2 separate regions of the Homo sapiens genome follow, and region 1 is linked to region 2. Evidence: fine-mapped expression QTL. A gene starts in region 2. The other region holds a variant in brackets. All regions are shown on one strand. Distances are from middle to middle.

What was found.
Region 1: its variant is fine-mapped to the expression of LINC02981 in prefrontal cortex (GTEx, PIP above 0.99).

The regions. Positions count from the first base shown.
Region 1 is chr7:26,454,739-26,465,662 of GRCh38, reverse strand. The region is part of intron 1 of LINC02981 (long intergenic non-protein coding RNA 2981); the gene reads right to left. Among named protein-coding and RNA genes, the nearest start is that of SNX10-AS1, 61 kb to the right of the region's middle. The variant T/C (reference allele first, on the strand shown) is at 6,004.
Region 2 is chr7:26,392,621-26,403,544 of GRCh38, reverse strand. It overlaps LINC02981 (long intergenic non-protein coding RNA 2981), which reads right to left and starts at 4,976. Exons shown (of 5, transcript NR_148502.1): 1 at 4,524-4,976. SNX10-AS1 (SNX10 antisense RNA 1) reads left to right here and starts at 4,127. Exons shown (of 2, transcript NR_136272.1): 1 at 4,127-4,204. RefSeq lists silencers at 4,440-4,549, 4,640-5,099 and enhancers at 5,570-5,809, 4,884-5,840.

The sequences.
Region 1 (10,924 bases), 62 kb before region 2:
GCTTATTGAGTGAATAATATTTATTTGAACCCACTTTTTAAAGCACCTGCATGAACAAGAAAAACAAAATGTATATCTGCTCTAGCCATTCATTGCCAGGTGGCTCAACATTAAAGGCCTTGATAATGCCCATGGTTAACAACAAAACAACTTTGAACACATGGTGTTGCTGGCATTCGCCTTTCATCCATCCCCCTGCCTTCAGAATGACCAAGATGAGTTTATTTCTGCCCTCTATTCCCTTGCCTAGGAAAAGAATTTTCTCATGCCAGCCACTGCCTGGTTGCCTCTTTCCAGAACAAAAGTAATTGACGAAAGCCCACAGTTAACTTCCATCAACCTGAGAAAGCAGCAGCTCGGATGTCAAGTCTCAGCTCTTCCATTTGGTTACTGTGTGATCTTGGCCAAGTTTTTAAATCTCTCGAATCTCAGTTTTCTTAGGAATAGAATGGAAAAGTAAAATTGTCTTCTACAGTTATTGTGAGGGTTAAATGAAATGAAGAATGGATGGTGCTTGGAACGTAGTACTTGCTCACTAAATGTGGGTTTCCTTTCTTTTCCCACAAGAAGGTGACCCTAGAATCACTCTGAAATCACAACATTTTTTTTTAGACAGAGTCTCACTCTGTCACCCAGGCTGGAGTGCAGTGGCGCGATCTCGGCTCACTGCAAACTCTGCCTCCTGGGCTCAAGCGATTCTCCTGCCTTAGCCTATACAGTAGCTGGGATTACAGGTGCCCACCACCTTGCCCAACTAATTTTTATATTTTTTATAGAGATGGGATTTCACCATATTGGCCAGGCTGGTCTCAAACTCCTGACCTCAAGTGATCCACCCACCTCGGCCTCCCAAAGTACTGGGATTACCGGTGTGAGCCACCGCGCCCGGCCTAAAATCACAACTTTCAAGGTGACACTTGACCATGGCCCCCAGAGATGCCTGGTCAGGGCTTAGTAGTAATGGAGACCAGCATAGGCTGTCTGGACCTGTGTAAGCCGTCCCCCATCCTCCCCTCCTCCTCCTTCACACAAGCCCACAGAGGGACAGGGTGCCCTTGGTACCCCTCTTGCATTTACGGCAGTCCTTCTCCGTCCTGCAAGGGTGGTGAACTGAATTCAGAAAAATGACAGGTCGTTACAAATATATTGCATGTTGTAAAATGAAAGAAAATGTCCTTGTTGGAAAGCCAAATGACTTACTTTGGGAGCAACTTTAAATGATAGGCATAGGATAGCACAAACGCAGAATGCACGTGTCACACTTTGGTATAATACTTCAAATAGGCATGTGGCACTCTATTGATTGATACACATGGGCTCTGGCATTCACCCTTTAACTGGATGCTCTCTGACAGTAACTCTCTATGACTCTGCTCTCTATTGATTTGGATTCATCTCTAAAAGTTCAGATTTGGAGGATACTCAGGCCAGGTCTGTACTGAGAACAATGCCTTGGAGAGTTGGTTGCTATCCAATGAATTCCAGTAATTATGCAATGAATTACAAATTGTCTATACCAGTGTTTCCTGGAATGTTTAATTCAGCAAAATACCTGTGAACATTCCACGATACCTTTCTGGAAGGAGGTCAGGGAAGAGGGTAGAGTGTCCAGTGGGAGGGGGTCTTTGTCCAGTTACCACTATCCTAGTCCTTGTCCATCTCTATCTCCTCACCCCAATACATTCTTATAAACACATAAAATTTACATGACTTTTGGTTTCTGTCTGCCATCACCCACTTCTGCTTCTAAGGTTAAAAACTACTAAAAAGACTTTTAAGGAAGCCCTAACTGGCTATGTGACCTTGGGTAAGTCACAAGCTCCACTAGATAGTTCAAGTTCTCTGCGCATTTATTATCACTGCATTTATTATCTTTAATTTTTGTGAGTACATAGTAGGTGTATATATTTATGGGGTATATGAGATGCGTTGACACAGGCACAAAATGTGTAATAATCACATCATAGAAAATGGGTCTCCCCCAGCCATCCCATTACTGTGTATATACCCAAAGGATTATAAATCATGCTGCTATAAAGACACATGCACACGTATGTTTATTGCAGCACTATTCACAATAGCAAAGACTTGGAACCAACCCAAATGTCCAACAATGATAGACTGGATTAAGAAAATATGGCACATATACACCATGTAATACTATGCAGCCATAAAAAATGATAAGTTCATGTCCTTTGTAGGGACATGGATGAAGCTGGAAACCATCATTCTCAGCAAACTATCGCAAGGACAAAAAACCAAACACCACATGTTCTCACTCATAGGTGGGAACTGAACAATGAGACATTGTTCAGTGGACACAGGAAGGGGAACATCACACACCGGGGACTGTTGTGGGGTGGGGGGAGGGGGGAGGGATAGCATTAGGAGATATACCTAATGCTAAATGACGAGTTAATGGGTGCAGCACACCAACATGGCACATGTATACATTTGTAACAAACCTGCACATTGTGCATATGTACCCTAAAACTTAAAGTATAATAATAATAAAATTAAAAATAAAAAGAAAATGGGGTCTCCATCCTGTCAAGCATTTATCCTTTGTGTTACTGGTTACTGCTTTTAAATCAGGATGCTGATTCAGGTCACGGACCTCTTCAAGAGTTCAGAAATGCCAGGCTCTACCTCTGGAGCTCAACTTAGTCTGTGTAGGTACCTCTGCCTCTCAAACCATCACAAGGGTGAGAAAGATACATAGCGGATGGAATTATCCCAAAGGTATATTGGATGTGGTTGTTCCCAGGCTCTTCCAAACCTATTGTCAATAAGCCCACGATCTGGCAGAGTTGAGCACAACAGGAACTCTGCATCCTTTGTTGGAGAAGTAGTTTTCCTTATGTTCATTTTAAACTACAAATTTAACAAAGTAAGTGACCGTGAGAAGCTGTGTAGTTTTGATGATGAAAGAGTCTGGGAATGAAGAAGAAATCTCCAGATACTTCAGAAGACAAAACATCTCTCCCAGTTTCCATAAAATGAAATAATGTCCTTGTTGGAAAGCCAAATGACTTACTTTGGGAGCAACTTTAAATGATGGGTATAGGATATAGCGAATACAGAATGCACATGTCACACTTCAGTATAATATTTTAAATAGGCATGAGGTACTTTCCTTTGTACCATGAAAATGAAAGATATTCACTGCATTTTCTTCCAAGTTAGATTATGACACATGTTTATTGGGCGCCTGTTATGGACCAGCCCTGTGCTAGGACCTGGGGTGCAGCGGTTAATAAGGTACACATTGCTGCTGCCCTGAGAGTTGGCTTGGTGGTGAAGAGAGCCCTTGGCTGGTGGTTAGAAAGCCAGCTTTTGGATCTAGGCTCCCCCCTTGACCTCTTTACATCTCAATTTTCCTTCAGCAAAATGAAGGCAATAGCCCTGTCTACCCACCTACCAATCTACTTCACAGGACCAGATAAATATGTTACAGGCCTCACAAACCATAGCACACTATGAGAAGATCAAGTATTACTACTGCAGAGATTTAAAATTCTTTCTCTCATACTCAAAAGAATGGAAAGCAGGGACTTGAACAGGTATTTGTATACCCATATCACAGCAGCATTATTCACAACAACGAAAAGGTGGAAATAATCTAAGTGTCTATCAGCAAATAGATGAACAAAATGTGGTTTATACATTCAACAAAGTATTATTCAACCTTAAAACAGAGGGAAACTCTGACACATGCCATGACATGATGAACCATAAGACATTATGCGACATGAAATACACCCCACACGAACGGACAAACATTGTATGGTTTCACTTATATAAAGTACCTAGAATAGTCAAGTTCATAGAGGAAGTAGAATGGTGGCAACCAGAAGCTGTGGGGAGGGGACAACAAGGAGTTGTTGAATGGTGCAGGGTTTCCATTTGGGAGAATGTTCTGGAGAAGGAGGAAGTTCTGGAGATGGCTGGTGGTGACGGTTGCACAATAATGTGAATGTGCTTAATGCCGCTCAACTGGTCACTTAAAACTAGTTAAAATGGTAAGAAAAAACCGCTTTCAGGATAGCAACTGTGTCAAGGTATACGCTGAGGTGAAGCAGCAGCAGCTTTTCTGTGGGAAGCCTCCTTAGCAGGCACCAGCTTGCTGTGTTCCCACTGTCCAGGGCTGGCATTCAGCTCTAAGTCAAAGGCTCGGCACCCTGCACTTGTCAGCAGGGTGACAACTGGTAAGAATTGGCCCAGCTTTTCATGGGTACACCTCAGAAGCACAGCATGTATGTATAAGATCAAAACACAGCATTGACATTTTTAATAAGAAATCACTATCAGAGATGGTCTACAACAGTGTCAGCATCCTGTCTACTTTCTGTTGGCAAATGTTCAGCAGCAACAAGGCAACCTGAAGACAAGGTTTGGTGAACATTGAATTGAGACAGGAAAACTAAGTGTTTAAGTGGCACCATGATAGGATGGGATGTTCTTCCCAAAGGGGACCTGAATCCTTGAAATCTGTTGATTACAGACTTGTGATATCTATGATTTCTGACACCGTATTGGAGATGCATCTTTCAAGAGGCCTAGAAATTACCCGTCGATTGACTTCAGCTCCTTCTCTTTTGGACAAGGTTTGGGCAGTCCCTGCTAACATTTGCCTTTGAGTCCCTTTTTTTGTCCTGCTTCCATGCTGAGTAAACCCTCTCCTTTCTGATCAAAGCATTATTTCTTTAGATTTGCTAATAAAATTGCTCAAACAAGTTGCAATTGAGGGTGTGGGCTTGGAAAATTTTCAGCTCCTTCGGATGACTTCCAGCAGCTGCACTGTGATCCATTTTGTGCTAAAGGTTTAAATCTCAGAGAAACAACAGCCCCTCTTTATGGAGTTCTTAGGGACACCTTCTGGAGCCCCCAAGTACTTACAACAACCATGATTACCCATCTTTTTCAGTTTTCTCCACATATGCGTAACTAGGGAGAAGCTAGAATATCTCTTTTCTGTGCAGTTAGGCTGGGAACAGAAACCAGAGATGTCTCTAACAGTGACTGATGCAAAGATGATGATCTCACTAGAGAAGCAGGGCCTTCCCTCTCTTGCTTCTCCTTGGCTTCGTATGCCAGTAATTGCCCAGTGTCCATGAAAAATTGCAGCTAAATCCCAGGCTGAGAGCTCAAAATGGACTTTGGACATTTCTCTTCCTGGCAGACTTCTGTGGAAAGAGTTGAAGGATTGCTGGCAGTGAGAATGTCTCCATGAAAAGTCACCTGGTGGAGGTCAGGGGCGAGGGCCCAGGGTGAATTTTACCTTAAACAGGACAGATCTGCAGATAAACAAAGGGAACCATGGTTTTGAGCCTGGTTAGTTTCTTAATCCTTTGTAAGCACATACATCATTCCCTGCAAATTCTTCCTCCAAACTGGAATTCACCGGAAGAAATCAACTTATAGAGGCAGCTGTTTCTTCTCTTGCATGTCTTCTGTTAAACAAAATAAACTGTACAACTAGCAAGATTGATGGTAATAATATTAAGTCCAAATAATCCAAATCGATTCCATCAAGACCTGGAAAGGTAAGCTGGGGATAACGTTACAGTAAAGGCATGGTTCTTGGGAGACGGTAAAAGTGTTACATTCTGTGCTACCTTTAACCTACAGAACATGTTCTTAGGAGTCAGGCCAACCTGCAATTAAACCCCAGCTTTGCTGTCAGGTCATTCTGAGTCAGGTTGGGCCATTTTCCAAATCATAAAGTAGGCTAAGGTTTGATGGAAGAATTCAATCAGAGAGCATGTATCAAGAGCCTGGGCGAGTGCTTGGCACAAAATGGGTGCCGAATAAGTGGTGGTTTCCAGCTCTCTTTCTTCCACTCTAAAACAAGCACAGCCTAGCCTGTGCATTTAACAAGTAGCTCCTGCCACAAACCCATGTCCTTAGATGATACAGCAAATCCATACCCTTGATGAATGGCTTTACAATGGGCTACCCTTGTGCTGTATATCCTAAATGGACAGAGAAGCATCTAAGAAA[T/C]CTAAAAGAAGCAAACTACCTGTCTCCATAACTCCAGAGCAAATCACAGTACCAAGGGCTGATTTGATGGGAAATCCCCCATCCATCACCACAAGGAGCAAAGCTGTGCCTGGGTCAGCCCAATAAGTAGCCATCCAGGAAATCCAGGTGTGCAGGGGGTTGGGAGAGGAACCAAGAAGAAGAAGCTAGAGGTCATTGGCTTTTCCCTGACCTCCGGCTACATTTCAGGGCCACCTTTAGGATGCCCCAACCTCTCTTCACACCACAGAAAGAGGACTTTGAAGATGTAGGTGGTGTCCCAGCTCCAACAAGGCAGGTTGTTCAGGGACTAACCAAGAGAGGGAGGTTGGAAAGTACTGGGGGTGTCCCATTGCCTCCCTTGTCCTTTCTTGACAGCCCCAATACAATTATAGATCCCCTGAGACCAAATTGTTTCCTTTTTAAGCTGTCCTTACATTTGGAACTCCCATAAAGAAAGCAATAAAATGAGAGGTACCCTCACACTGCCATGTGCAGGTGTTCCAAGTCGCAGCGAGTCATTTGAATCCCCACTTAGGCCAGCAGATTCATTCCATCTGTGCTTACAATTCAGTTGAGATCAGAATTTTCTGATGCACAGCTTTCCTGAAATGTCTGTTTCTCCATTGTTTTTCACATTCCAAAGGAGAAAAATCATCATTTCCATCCACATTATTAGAAACAAAACTAGCCCCTTTTCTCCCCAGCCCATATTATTGCCTCATTACAAATATATTTTGTGCATCAACCTTAAAGGTTATGTTTCCCTCCTGCTTCCTCCTTTCATTATACAAGATTTCCAGTTATCCAGTATTTTGTTCTCATTAGAACACTGCTTGTCACATGTTTTCACCAGAGACATTCATCACCAAGGTCAAAGGGTGAATATCGTGATCTATTATGCTTAGAGGAATCTAATGAAAAGCCACATAATTATCCAATTTAAAGAGAAGCAAGTAAAAAAGAAGGGGAGCACTTGCTATAATTTAAATTGTTTTGTTTCCCTGAAGCAAAATTCAGCACCTGATTGACAGGACCTAATGATAATTCTTATTGATACGGTGATGTTAATTGTGGAGAGATATTTAATAAGTCCCATATTCTGGAGGTAAATGCGTGCTCTTAACCTGCACCTGAACCTGATTTTTGATGCAGCGTGGGGATGAGGTACAGATACAGATAAGTGAGCACAAGTGGATTTTCAGTCTTGTGTGGCAGAATGGAAATTGGAATCTTCAGAATCTATTAGGAGAACAATTCCACAGTTGCTCACACTTTTATAAATTATACTGTATATTACAGAAAGACACAAAGTCAGGGGAGTTGCAAGAAGAGGATATTGTCATGACTTTACAGAGAAGTTTTTAGGGTAGCATTTGGTGACGGTGGTGGTGGTGGTGTTTTCAACTAAAGACACACATCAAAGAACGTGATCTGTATTCATTTTTAAACAAAATGCACTAATGAAATCCACATCCTGAATCATCTCTCTGCCACCCCCAGGTAAAGCTGACCTTGCAGAAAATGAGGCCAACTCTGAAACATAGGTAGATTCTTGGAAGAAAATGACTTCTTACACCGTGAACAAAACCATTTGAGAAGGCCTTCATGGGTCTAAATTACAAAAGGAAGTGATCCGTGCGGGCTGAAAACATCAACTAGATCTGCATCCCATCATGAGATGGCTGGGAGGCAGGAAACAGCTGCTGGAGCTGTGGACAGGCCTGAGGTCATCTCTGACTTTCTGAGAGGCCATTTCAAAGCCACTATCTGGACAAGAAACGATGGGTGACCAGATCCAGCTCTGTGTGATTCAACTCTGTACACCAGTGAGCCATCCCTCACAGAGAAGCTGTGTGTTCCTGGTGTTTTTTATTACGTGCTAAATACCAGAACTTTAAAACTGCATCTGTGATTGTCATGAGACAATGCCATCATTTTGGAACTAATACTCACACCGCCATCTTTGTGCAAATAATACAAGGTTAAAAAAGAAATAAAGAAAGAAAGAAAAACAAAAGAAAAGAAAAGAAAAGAGAGCTGCTCTAAAGACAAATAGACTTGAAAAAAATGAGTCAACTTGGAAAAAAGAAGTAACCAAAGTGGCTTAAATCTGAGGGACGGCAAATTGTTCAAATTAATTTCTTTCAACTCCAAGTTAACTCAGTCTTCCATTTTTACTTATGAGAAAAGAATATTACATGGTGAGTATTCTAATATAACCTGCTTAATGTAATTATTCATGCCAAAGCATAATTAACTTCAAAATAATCAAGCCACAGATAGTTATAACCTGAGTCACAGTGGGTCACTGTTACTAGAAGAGAAAGCTCTCAATCTACAAATAGGAACATGAGAGTAAAAATGTAATCATTAAAGGGTGTCAAGGAAAACAAGAGTAATTTTTAATGAAGAAAATGTTTAAAATGTCCTAAACATTTCAAGATAAGATTCTTCTTGAGCTTAGTTAGCAGCTGGGGTCTGGCACATCGGGGGTGATCAGTAATGAGCAAAGACCAGACATTCTTTTTTGCTTCCTGAACTTGCTTCATTTTTTTTTTGCTTTTAATACACACACACATACATATATACATATCCTTGGAATAGTTCAGATATAAATTATATTGACTTTGAGCCATGTACTTACCTTCACTGAAAAAAAAAGTCAAGTTAATTGGAGACGACCAAATTGATCGCGGGTTATGATACCAATAGCAGCTGAAATTGCTGCTGTGATTTTCAACTGCCTAAGCCAAAGCATTACATCATGCACAGGAGATTATAATTTCTCTGAAGAACACTTCTGGTATCTCACCACCCGAAAAGTGATATGCCAGCAAATTGATGAGAGTTCAGAGAAAAGCAATAAAAATAATTAAGGATTGACTGATGGAAAAAGATGAAAAGAATTGAATGTGGGCTGCCTGACCCAAAAATGACCTGGGTGGTTATAGGAACATTACCCAGGTATCTGGAGGGTCAAGATTCCTGTCTGTCCACACAGCAAAACAATGCAATAATAAACAAAACAAAGCTGTTGGATAATTCACTCCATGATTTGCTCTGGAAGCTGGTGCTGCTCTGGGCCAAAAACCAGGGTCATGTCTACTCTGAGCAGTCACCAGCAGTCACTCTATGCTTCTGTGTGTCTCTTAGTGTGGGCTCAAGGCTGACATGGAGGCTGGGATGCCACTGATGTTCCCCTATTTCCACTCTGGTGCTGTCTAACCATACACTCATCCTATGCCAGACACCTGGGTCCTTGAAATGGCCTGCAACCCAAAAGAGAAAAGGTAAAGACTGGTTAACATCATGGTTGAGAGTCTGGGTTCAACTCTCAGCTCCAATACTTTCCAGCTGAGTGACCTTGGGAAAGTTACTCAACCTCTCTGAGATTCTGTTTCCTCACTTGTAAAATGGAGAGAGGAATAGTGCCTTCCTTCTAGGATTGTTGAATGAAATTTTTCACATAAAGCACTTCTCAGTGCCTGGTGTGTAGTAAGTGCTCAACAAATGGTCGCTACTGTTCTTATTTATTATAATTAGCAGCAAGGGCCAGGAACACCTGAAGGGGCAACAAAGATCTGACTCTCCTAGTAGGGGTTCCAGGCCCTAAGACATTCACCATGACTTGCCTGGCCAGTGCCTGAACAGATGTTCACTAATGTTATCGATGTGCCTCTCCACCCCCCACCACCCAAACATGCCAGTTTCCTTTATATCTATTATAGGCTGGGGGACCAAATGTCCTAATTTGCCCAGGACAGTCTTTATGCCTGTTGACCTAGGGCAATTACTAATAGGACCCTCTTTCTGTCAAATCAGTTATGATGATGAATGATATGGTCAGCCTAGTTATGAATCTCTCAACATCTTTTTTTCTAAACCTTTTCTATCCTGCATCATCTCTTGACAATGAGTTTCTTAAGTATATTGAAGTTACTGTGAGAAAGTATTTTTACCAGTCCTGACCTTACCGAGGTCAACAGTTTTGCCATCTCAGGAGCTGGTGAATGGATCCACGGTCACCCTAGTCCCATATTGTCCACACTTCACTGTGCTCAGACTAAAGAGCCTAGCCAGTTAGTCTGTCCCACACTGATAAGCCTTCTGCATTCCCACTTTCATTTTAGTTGATTTGCTCTGGAAAATGTCCAGTGCCACTGGATCTTCTTTAAGAAGCATAACTGAAACTTTACTTTAGGTTTAAGTGAATGAAATAGTCCCTCTTTTTATTCCAGGGTTTGGAGTCAGGGGATCCAAGTTTGAGTGCTAGCGCCATCCTTTATACCTGCGTGACCTCAGGTAAATCACTTCATCTCTCTGAGCCTCACTTTCCTTATCTTCATAATGGCAATAATGTGTAGATAGTCATGCAATCTACAAATAGTGATAGCTTTACTTCTTCCTTTCCAATCTGTGGGCCCTTTTTTTCTTGCCTTATTGCACTAGCTAAGACCTCCAGTACAATGTTGAATAGAAGTGGTAAGAGTCAACACCCTTGCCTTATCCCACTCTTATGGGAAAAGAGTTTAACATTTTACCACTAAATATGTTACCTGTAGATTTTTCATAGCTGACCTCATAACAGGTTGAAGAAATCCCCATCTAGTCCTGGTTTACTGAGAGTGTTGAGTTTTGCCAAGTGCATTTTCTCTACATATTTAGATGATTACATATGTTCCCCATATTCTGTAACTTATTAAATGATAGTAATTAAATTTCAAATGTTTAAAGAATCTTATATTCTTGGGATAAATCCCATCTATTGCTGGACTCAATTTGCTGTATTTTGTTAATAACTTATGTGTCTCTTATTGATGTGATGCTATAAGAAAAGTATCTTTTCTCTATTCCTGTATCTGAGAATCAAATGAGATTGTGAATGTTAACATGTTTTCTA
Region 2 (10,924 bases):
AAATTAGCTGGGCATGGTTGCACGCACCTGTAGTCCCAGCTACTCAGGAAGCTGAGGCAGGAAAATCGCTTGAACCTGGGAGGCAGAAGTTGCAGGGAGCCAAGATCGCACCACTGTACTCCAGCCTGGGCGACAGAGCGAGACTCCACCTCAAAAAAAAAAAAAAGATTAAAAATGGTACACCTGTATAAAGCACTTACCATGAATGGAACTTTCAGGACTGAAAGTGTCTCTGAGTAAGTCAGTGAATGAGTAGACAGCGAATGTGAAGACCTAGGACATTACTGCACATTACTATAGACTTTATAAGCTCTATACTCTAGCCAGGAATGGTGATGCACGTCTGTAATCCCAGCTACTCAAGAGGCTGAGGCAGGAGGATCACTTGAGCCCAGGAGTTCTAATCCAGCCTGGGTAACATAGAAAGACCCCATCTCAAAAAAATAAAAAGTGAAAATAATAAATAAACTCTGTATACTTAGGCCACACTAAATTTATTAATTATTTTCTTTCTTCAATAATAAACTTAGCTTACTATAACTTTTTACTTTATAAAATTTTTAATTTTTTTAACCTTTTGATTCTTTTGTAATAATACGTACCTTAAAACACAGATTGTATAGCTGTACAAAATTATTTAATTCCTTTTTATCCTTATTTATATCAGCTGTTCTCTATTTTTAAAATTTTTATTTTTTATTGTTTTTAATTTTTAAATATTTTGTTGAAAACTAAGACACAAACAGATACATTAGCCTAGGCCTACACAGGATCAGGATCATTAATATCACTGTCTTCCATCCCCACATCTTGTCCCATTGTAAGGTCATCAGTGCATAGAACTGCCATCTCATTTTTTTTTTTTTTTTTTTTTTGCTCTTATCACCCAGGCTGGAGTGCAATGGCATGATCTCCACTCACCGCAACCTCTGCCTCCTGGGTTCAAGCGATTCTTCTGCCTCAGCCTCCCAAGTAGCTGGGATTACAGGTGCCTGCCACCACACCCAGCTAATTTTTGTATTTTTAGTAGAGATAGAGTTTCACCATGTTGGCCAGGCTGGTCTCGAACTCCTGACCTCAGGTCATCCACCCACCTTGACATCTCAAAGTGCTGGGATTACAGGTGTGAGCCACCGTGCCCACCCCCATCTCCTCTATTAAAATTCCTTCTTCTAGAATCCTTCTGAAGGACCTGCCTGTGGCTGTTTTATAGTTAACTTTTATACATATATGTGTGTATAAATATGTGTGTATGCATGTGTAGAAAGTAGTCTAAAATAATAATAAATAGTATAGTAAATGCATAAACTAGTAACAGTTGTTTATTGTTATTATCTAGGATTATGTACTTGATAATGTGGCATACTGTGGTATGTGGTATACTTTTAAATAACTGGCAACGCAGTAGGTTTGTTTACACTGACACCACCACAAGCACACAACTAATGTGTTGCATTAAGATGTTACAAGGGCTAAGACATCACCAGGCGATAGGAATTTTTCAGCTCCACGGTAATCTTACAGGGCCACTATCGTATATGCAGTCCATTGCTGATCAAAACATCATTATGGGGCACATGACTGTATTATTAATTGAAAATATAAGATGTTGAAGATTAACATTCAGCATTAACCCATTTGTGTAAACAAAGAGTAGATATACAGTCATGCACCACATAATGACATTTCGGTCAACAATGGACCAAATATACAACAGTGGACCCATAAGATTAATATGGAGCTGAAAAATTCCTATAGCCTAGTGGCAATATAGCCATCACAATGTTGTAGAGCAATTACCTTTTTAAATATAAATTTAGTGTAGCCTAAGTGTACGGTGTTTATAAAGCCTACACTAGTATACACAATGTCCTAGACCCTCACATTTACTCGCCACTCACTCCACTCACCCGAGCAACTTCTAGACCTGCAAACTCCATTCATGGTAAGTGCCCTATACAGTTGTATTTTTTCTTTTTTTACCATTTATACTGTATTTTTGCTGTACCTTTTCTACATTTAGATACATAAGTACTCACCATTGTGTTACAGTTGCCTACAGTGTTGTTTTTTTTTTTTTGAGATGGAGTCTTGCTGTGTTGCCCAGGCTGGAGTGCAGTGGCATGATCTCTGCTCACTGCAAACTTTACCTCCCAGATTCAAGTGATTCTCCTGCTTCAGCCTCCTGAGTAGCTGGAACTACACGTGTATGCCATCAAGCCCAGCTAATTTTGGGGTTTTTAGTAAAAACAGGGTTTCACCATGTTAGCCAGGCTGGTCTTGAAGGCCAGCCTTGGCCTCCCAAAGTGCAGGGATTTACAGGCGTGAGCCACAGTGCCTGGCCAATTGCCTTCAGTATTCTGTTACAGTACCATGCTGTACAGGTTTGTAGCCTAGGAGCAATAGGCTATACCATATAGCCTAGGTGGGTAGTAGGCTACACCATCTAGGTTTGTATAAGTACATTCTCTGATATTCGTGCAATGATGAAATCGCCTAACGATGCATTTCTCAGAACATATTCCCATCATTAAGAGATGCATGACTGTATATATTTGCATGTGTTTTTAAGTTACTGGAAGAATATACAAAAATATTAATAGTGCTTGTAACAGTGAATGGTATAGAAAGAAGGAAGGAAGGAGTGGGAGGATTCTGTTTTTTATTTCATACACTTCTACAGTGTTTGAATTATTTTTATTGAATATGTTACTTTCATTATTTTTAAAAACATCTTCTTCCCACCTTCTCATCTTGTCTATTTCAGCCTAGCCAACTAGGTTTTCTCAGGACTGAGGTTATTTATTCCATATTAACTCTGTCTCAAGCTCATATGCATCTCCCACGATTATTTTTCCCAAAACACTTTAGGTTTAAGAATGACCTTTCCTAGGTCTTTAGCTTATGATTAACCAAATGAAACCATCACTAGATGGACTCCCTAATTCAGGTGTTGAATTACAAAAATGAATTTTCAGGGGGAAAAAAATGCTAACTCAATTATGTTAGTTAAAATATCAGTAAAATTAGCAATGCCACAGTGTCATGAAGCAGAAGGTCAAAGACCCACACACCCTTTACTGGGCGCCATGGTGGGACTTAACTGGGGCAGTTCCGGTTCTGCCATTAGGACCATGAGCACTCCAATCTCAGTGAAATTGTATAAGACACTGCCATTATCCCCGGATCATTGCCACGATAGACCCAAACAACTCCAGTCTATCGTGTCAATGTGTATTTGGGGAGTCTTTAACACACGGATCATTGGCGAGCTGCACCATAAAAGCCCTGTAGGAGCCGTGGCCGTGTGTGGAATCAATGCACACTCGGGGACTTCCCCACGCCCGGATCATTTGCAGCGCATCGTGTCAATGCATACTCCGGGAGCCCCTACTCCGAAGCCTGTGAGTGCTGAGGAACAGTGTACACCAAAAATACTTATGGAATAGTTGTTACAGTGCGTACACAGTATTCACTTTTCTAAATGGCATGTCAGCAAGTTTAGTGTGCCACAAATAACTCCTAAAAGGCACAAAACACTCCTAGAGGCCCACCTTCACACATGAATGGTTGGTCCATGGAATTGTGGCATGGCTGTGGGGGAGTGTAAGTTTTTCTTTACAGTGAACAAAGGGAAAAGAAAGAGACATCTGCTATTCAGTGTTGTCAGGGTTTTCAGCATAATCCCAAACACCTCCTAATTATTTTCCTGGGCATTTGATCCCTAAGATACAAGGACCTTCCCTCCATCCCTGCCCTGTTCCAAAGTACCTGTAGAGCAAGCTGAGAGGGCAGAGTTAGAGGATGGGTGGGGTTGGGTCTTAAGTGCGATCCCACAGAGATATAATGTGAACCACATGTGTAAATTTAAATGTTCTTTGTGGCCACATTTTTAAAAAAAGATTTAATTCATGATACTTTATTTCACCCCATATACCCAAAATATTATCATTTCAATATGCAATCAATGTTTTTAAATGATGAATGAGCCAGTTCACATTCTTTTTTCCATACAGTCTTCTTTACAATGGGGTGTGTATTTCCCACTTGGAGAACATCCTGGTCTGGCCTGGCCACACTGCAAGCCCTCGGCAGCCTCTTGTGGTCAGTGGCTGCCCCAGTGAGCAGCACAGCTACAGAGGTTCAGGAAAACCAACCCCAGGAGCGTGGATGTTCACTGCCTTCCTTCAACCACTCCAGGCAGGTGCGTCCACCTTTCCTCCTCATTGCCTCACCAGGGCTGCAACTGCCGAACAGCCTTTTCTCGGCAGCCTGACAGAATAGCTGTGTGTTGGGTTTCTGCAATCATAAAAAATGACCACAAATATGCATTCGGAAAGAGGAACGAAAACTCCTCTAGGCCCAAACGGTAATGGCAGTACTAGGTCATCTTTCTTGGAGACGGAGGTGAAGGGAGGGCAAGGGGCCCCTGGGGAAGGAAAGAGGAGGCGGGCGTGGCGTCGAGCGCGAGGGCGGCGGCCTAGCTGCACCCGCGAACTTCCCCACACCTGCGACCAGCTCACCTCGCGGCGTGAGGGATCCCTGGCAGTCGGACGCGGCAGGGTGGCTGGTTTCTGGGGCTGAGTCTGGCCCGACACAAAAGAGGAGGGAAAGGAGAAGGAGACGGAAACAAAGGCGCGGGGGAGGACGAGGAGGCGCGCGCGGTCGCGGGGCAAAGCGGCGATGCGGTGCGGGCGCGCGCAGCCTGGGGCTCCCGGGACCAGCGGGCGGGAGCAGGCGGAGCGGGCAGGGCGATTTGAATATCAGGCTCTGCCACACTCGGGGCGCCGCTGACAACTTCATTACCTCCGCATATAAAAATGACTGCCGGGGAATGCAAATAGCTCGCCTGTCTCAGCCGCCTGCCCTCGTTCCGCCGCCGGCTGCAGGCGGAGGCCCCGGGAGCCGCGGCGGCCGGAGGCGCAGACGCGCCCTGTCCAACATAATGAACTGCCCGGCCGCGGCTCCGCCCACCCCCCAGCCGCCGAGCCGGGCCGGGAGGGGGAGCCGGCCCGGTGCTGGAGGAGGAAGGGGTGGGCGGCCGGGCGCGGCTCAGAGGCCGCGCGTTGCTAGTCAGTGTCGGCGCAGGCCCTGCCTCTTGACTCTGTCATCCAATTACTGCCATGAAAATACCAGGAAACTAGAGTGCTCAGTGGGTTCCACTCGTGACCGCGAACTCTGACGGAAAAGCGGGACCCCCGGCCTCCGTCCCGTGCGCCCTGGTGGTTAAATTGGACGCCAGCATCCCGGCGCCCCGCTCTCGTCTCGCCTGCAAGCGGGCGGCGGGTGTGCTGCGCCCTGCTCCCCAGGCCTGCGGCCACCGGGACAAGGCTGCGTCGCTGTGCAGGACCCGCCTCCCGAACCCTGGGCCTTGCTGAGCTCCCCGTGTGGCCACCGAGGCAAGCCGCGTGCGGGAGGGAACGCAGGCTTCACGGCGCCTCTCTTCTTGCCCTGGCTTGCTCCCTGGCAAGAAGTCACCTCCCGCCTTCTGATAGCTCCCCCTGTCACATTTGGGCCCCTTGTGAACTTCTCGAGGAGAGGAGCTAGGTCACTTTTATTAATAGCAACAACGACAGTAGTAAACATATGCTGAGGACTATTCTACGCAAGGTACTATGCCAACTGCTTTACCTACATGTTTATCACAGCGATCTTATTGCACTCCTGGAAACCCAGGCTTAGCAAAGCCTTGAAAGGTTCCCAGCATAACCCAGCTAAGGTGGGAGGGAGCACAGGTGAGAACCCAGGCCCCTCTACACTCTCAATCACTCTGCAGTATTTTCCGGGTCCTTCTTACAGCTCACACAACTGTCCAGCACTCCTTTGTCCCCCGAACGCATCACCCCCAGCCATCTTAGGCCGGGCCAGCCCCCCGCCCCCACCCTCACCCCCTCCCTCACCCCCTCCCTCACCCCCTCCCTCACCCCCTCCCTCTCCTTGGCCCAGAAGTAAATCCTAAGTAGTCTAAATCCGTTATGACCAACCCCTTCCCTTGCCCAGGCACTGGCTTAGAAAAGAGCATGTGACCAGTCCTGGCCAAGGCCAAGCCAGGGGACATCTGTTGGGGTTTTCTGGGAAATGCTTCCTTGCCCTAAAAAAAGACACCTCTAGCGATTCCAGTTTCTTCTGTTGTAGAATGTATATCCACCACCTGGCAACCACGGAGGAGCCAGGGAACAAAGTTAGTCTTTGCAGAGATTTACAGGATTAAGTGAGCTAACTCCAGGGTTAAAGTTTAGGAGAATCATGTTTTAGTCCTATCTCTACCTGCGATGGAGTCATGCTGCCTCGTGTTTATTCAGGGACATATTTAAAGTTAACTCCTTTTTGAAACGAGACAAGATAAAAAGATGTAAACAAAGGAAAACTCCAGAAATTTGGTCTTGTCTCCATTAAAGAGTGTCTGTTTCTAGGCACTTCAGTGGAACCTCTCACTTCCAGCTTCTCTTCCTGGGCACTCACCTCTAACTCATTCAGCTTTTTTCCCTCAAAGTAGCTCTTTGCCTACACAGGCAAGGCATCTCTTCCCTCCAGGAACATCAGAACCCCCCTTCTAACCCTCCTGCACCCACACACCCAGGCGTCTGAGCTTGACTGCCTTTGAAATGTTTACTGGCCTTCAAGTAGTCTCTTTGAAGAATTTGCATCTAATTTTGAACTTAGGGAAAATCGGGCATAACCAGTCACTTACTAGTTTCCTTGGCAACTACTTTAAAACAGAATCTAAATTGGAATGAAAATGGATTTTTATGGTTTCACTAAAATCATACACACTTTTCATGAAAATATACCAAAAAAACTATAAAAAATATATACATACTATATGCTTTATTCGTTTATCTGGAATCAATACACAGTAACTAACTCAAATATCTCTGTTCCCCACTGCTGAGGAAAGGCACTCCACACTCCCTTAGCAAGACATTTAAGACCCTCCACAATCTGCACCTAACCCAGCTCCAGCCTTATTTGTCTACTACAGTACATCCCCAAATCATGCTATTGCATTTCCTCTCCCATGACATTCTCTAGAATGCCCTTGAACTTCATGTCCAACTGTTCAAATATCACCGATCTTTCCAAGTCCAGATTAAATATCACCTCTTCCAAGAAGCTTTTCCCATTCCTCACATATAATGACACAAATTGAGTTACTTAGTGTTTATTTTCAGCAATATTTAGCATATTTTATTTACTGATACCCAGTATTGTTAAAATAATGCACATTTCCTAACAGTTGGGGGGCTTCAATATTACCATGCAAACAATTAAAATGAGTAATAAATATTATCAGCAGAATTGTATAAATCTTACTCCCAACTTAAGGCTGAGCTGTTCTGTCAGATGTGATAAAATAAAGCTTCATACGCTGCTTGTTTTTCTTAGGATAACTTTGATTTCAGTAATAGAAAACCTGTCTGTAGTAGCTTTAAAAATGAAGAAAATGTAGTATCTCATGTAGGAAGTACCAAGGTAGCAGATGCTAAGTTTGGTTAATTTAGTGGGTCAAAAATGTTTAATGTTGTCAAGTTTTTCTCGTCTTTCTGAAATTCTGCCATCCTCAGCTTGCTGACCTTGTCCTTAGCTAGTTCTCCTCAAGGTCTCAAAATGGCTGCCATAGTTCCAGGCATCACTTTAAGACATGGCAAAGGCCAGCCAAAAAAGTTGACTGTTCTCAAATTTTTTAAGAGTGGAGAAATTATACCAAAGATCCCTCAGATCTTTTCTCATTGGCCAGAACCAGGGCACGTGACTATCTCTAAACTACCACTGGCAAGAGAGGCAAGATTATCAGAATTGATAACTAATCAGGATTTAGTCTTGAATTATTTTGAGGGTAAGGGGAGCGGTGCAGGAGAGCAGGGAATTGACAGGACAGGCAATGCCAAAACAAAAGCTGAATTTTAGTCCGTTTCCCAGTCATCAATTTCTGCAGCCAAACTATCCCAAAGCTTAGTGGCTTAGAAACTTTTTTATTTTTTCTCTAGAATCTGGACAGGGCAGCTCCCAAGGAATAAGGAATAAGGGAGGATGGCTATTGAGTAGGCACTAAAAGTATCAGCAACTTTTCTTTTCTTTCTTTTTTTTTTTTTTTTTTTGAGATGGAGTCTTACTCTGTTGCCCAGGCCAAGCTGGAGTGCAGTGGCACCATCTCAGCTCACTGGAACCTCTGCTTCCCTGGTTCAAGGAATTCTCCTGCCTCGGCCTCCCAAGTAGCTGGGATTAAAGGCGCATGCCACCACGCCTGGCTAATTTTTGTATTTCTAGTAGACACGGGGTTTCACCATGTTGCCCAGGCTGGTCTCAAACACCCAACCTCAGGTGATCCTCCCACCTCGGCCTCCCAAAGTCCTGGGATTACAGGCGTGAGCCACCACGCCTGGCCAGTATCAGCGACTTATGATGGCTTTTTATTTGAAGATCAAAACCAATCACACTTTGATTATTCTTATATTGGTTCTTTCTACCAAAAAATAGTGTTTGAAAAAATGGTATATATTGATTTAGTCGATAGCAAACTGCTTGGCTGAATCCAATTGATATTTTCTTAGGGTGCAGTAAAATATTTGCTCTTTTGCTTTGCTTTCTCCCCACTAAATAACTAGCCATATTATGGATCCCACATAGGATTTTTCCTTTAACAATATGAATTCTTGACTGAATTAAGCCATTTTTGCCCTAAGTTCTTTAGTTTGTAGACATCTGAGAATTAAGTCAGGAGAATAGCAAATAATTATTTTAATTTAGCAAATAATGTAATAACTGGATTATTCACCATCAGAATATTCCTCTTTGAAAACGTGTAAATCATAGAAATGTTTGAAGATAAAATTATTAGTCATTCCCCTCTCGAAGGCAGATAGGAAAATTGTAACATGTAGTCTTTGTTTTGTAATGTCACTTCATTATCCTAAATAGGCCTTCTAGTTCTCTTTTAATTTATATATATTATAAATAATATTTTTATATATTTTATATATTTATATTATATAAAAATTATATAATATAAATAATATATATTATTTATAATATATTATATATATTTAAATATGTATAATATATATTTAAATTATATATATATATATATATGAGGTAAGAAAGTTCTTAAGTAGTGGCTAAGTCATGTCATTTATCTGGAGTCAATACACGGTAACTAACTCGAACGTCTCTGGTCCCCGCTGCTGAGGAAAGGCAGCCCACACTCCCTTAGTAAGACATTTTTAGTCATGTCATTTACTAAAATACCACATGGACTTCCTTTTGTCATCGTATCTTCCATCTTCTAATAAATGTATAAGTGTCTCTAGAACAATACCTGGTCAGATGATGAATGTTCGTACCATCATACTCTCCCTTTCTTTTCAAGACACTCATGGAACTGCTTGCACAAAATCTGATGTATTCCAATACCATCTCTGTGAATCATAGACCTTTAAAGCCAGAATGACAGTCCTCTAATTTGATAGGTGAAGAAACTAAGGCCCTAGAATTTAGAGAATTTTCTGGAAGTTACCAGACTAGTTAGTGACACAGTGGGATCTCATTATCTTGTTTCTGGTTGGTTGCCCCTTAGACCATACATTGGTATTAATGATTAACATGAAGTACAGACCTAACTCTAACCAGGTTATGAGTCAGATTCTTTAATATGGAGTTGGTGGCACCCACTCAACCAGGTCCCTGTAATCTCCACGCCAACATACTCAGCGATCCCATCAAGTCTCATTCCCAGGTACCTGAGGTCTCCTCAAATCCCTGTTTCATCACCTGTGCCAGCAGCCCAGGCAAACCTGGGGTTCACGGAAGGTACTTGACAAGGTGCTTCTTTCTGTCCCCATTGAGCTGGGGCAGGCAGGGGAAACAGAGACAGCTGGTGATGCATCGCCTCCTGTCTATGCACCTTCACAGCGAACTTAAAGCTGAATCTTCAGATTCAAATCTGACAGTTTAATCATAAAAGAAGGTTTTTCTTCTCAAATGTTAATTGAATTTCCCCCCTTAAATAATTGTTTGGATTTAGAAACCCTGAGGCCTGTATTTTTTCAGTGTGGAATTATTCCGTTGGCAGCATGCATTCGAATCCACAACTCCTGTTTCAAATCATACATTTCTAAAAAGAGAAACCAATGTGCTCCAATTCACTAATACTTTTAAACGATTAAAAGACAACTAAGAAAATGAAGCCTAACCACGACTATTTGTAGCCTTCTTTTTCTTCAGCCAACAATTGCTGTAATCCACACTAATGAGGTAGACGGTGTTAAGAATTTTCTTCACTTAACATTTCTCATTATTAATAAATTTTGCACTGACAACTATAAAGTGAACACTTTGGATTTATGCACCTAACCTAATTACATATGCTGCATGTACGCATTTCATTATTTACTTGACAGATTCATTCCTTGATATAATAAATAATTAAACAAGAATCAAATATTAACAATCAGATACATGTTAATTCTCCTCAAATCTGTAGAAACAAACTCTATTTTTATCTTCAGTTCAACAAGCACTGATTAAAATTTCTTCATTAGGCAAATTTCATAAGCAAAGTTCTTGATCTACTTTTCTTACTTTCACTGAAAATTAAACCAGAACAAACTATTCCAGGATTACTTCATGGAAAAAAAAATGTAACAGTATTTCTAGCAAAGCCATTGGATTTGTAATCTTTCATGAGCACTGCTGTATCTTATATATGAAACATTAATCTAAGTGTTTGTTAGGAATTCTCAAAGATGGTCTTATTATAAACCAGAAGCCAATACCAAATTGGTTGCTAGTGGTATATTACCAGAGATGTCTTGTGGGATAATGGTTTTAACCAAACAATTATTTTATAACTTGTTTAAAGAATAATTCCGTGACATTATGGATAACGGTAAAACTCAATTTGGGCTGAAAATTTACACTGAGGTCA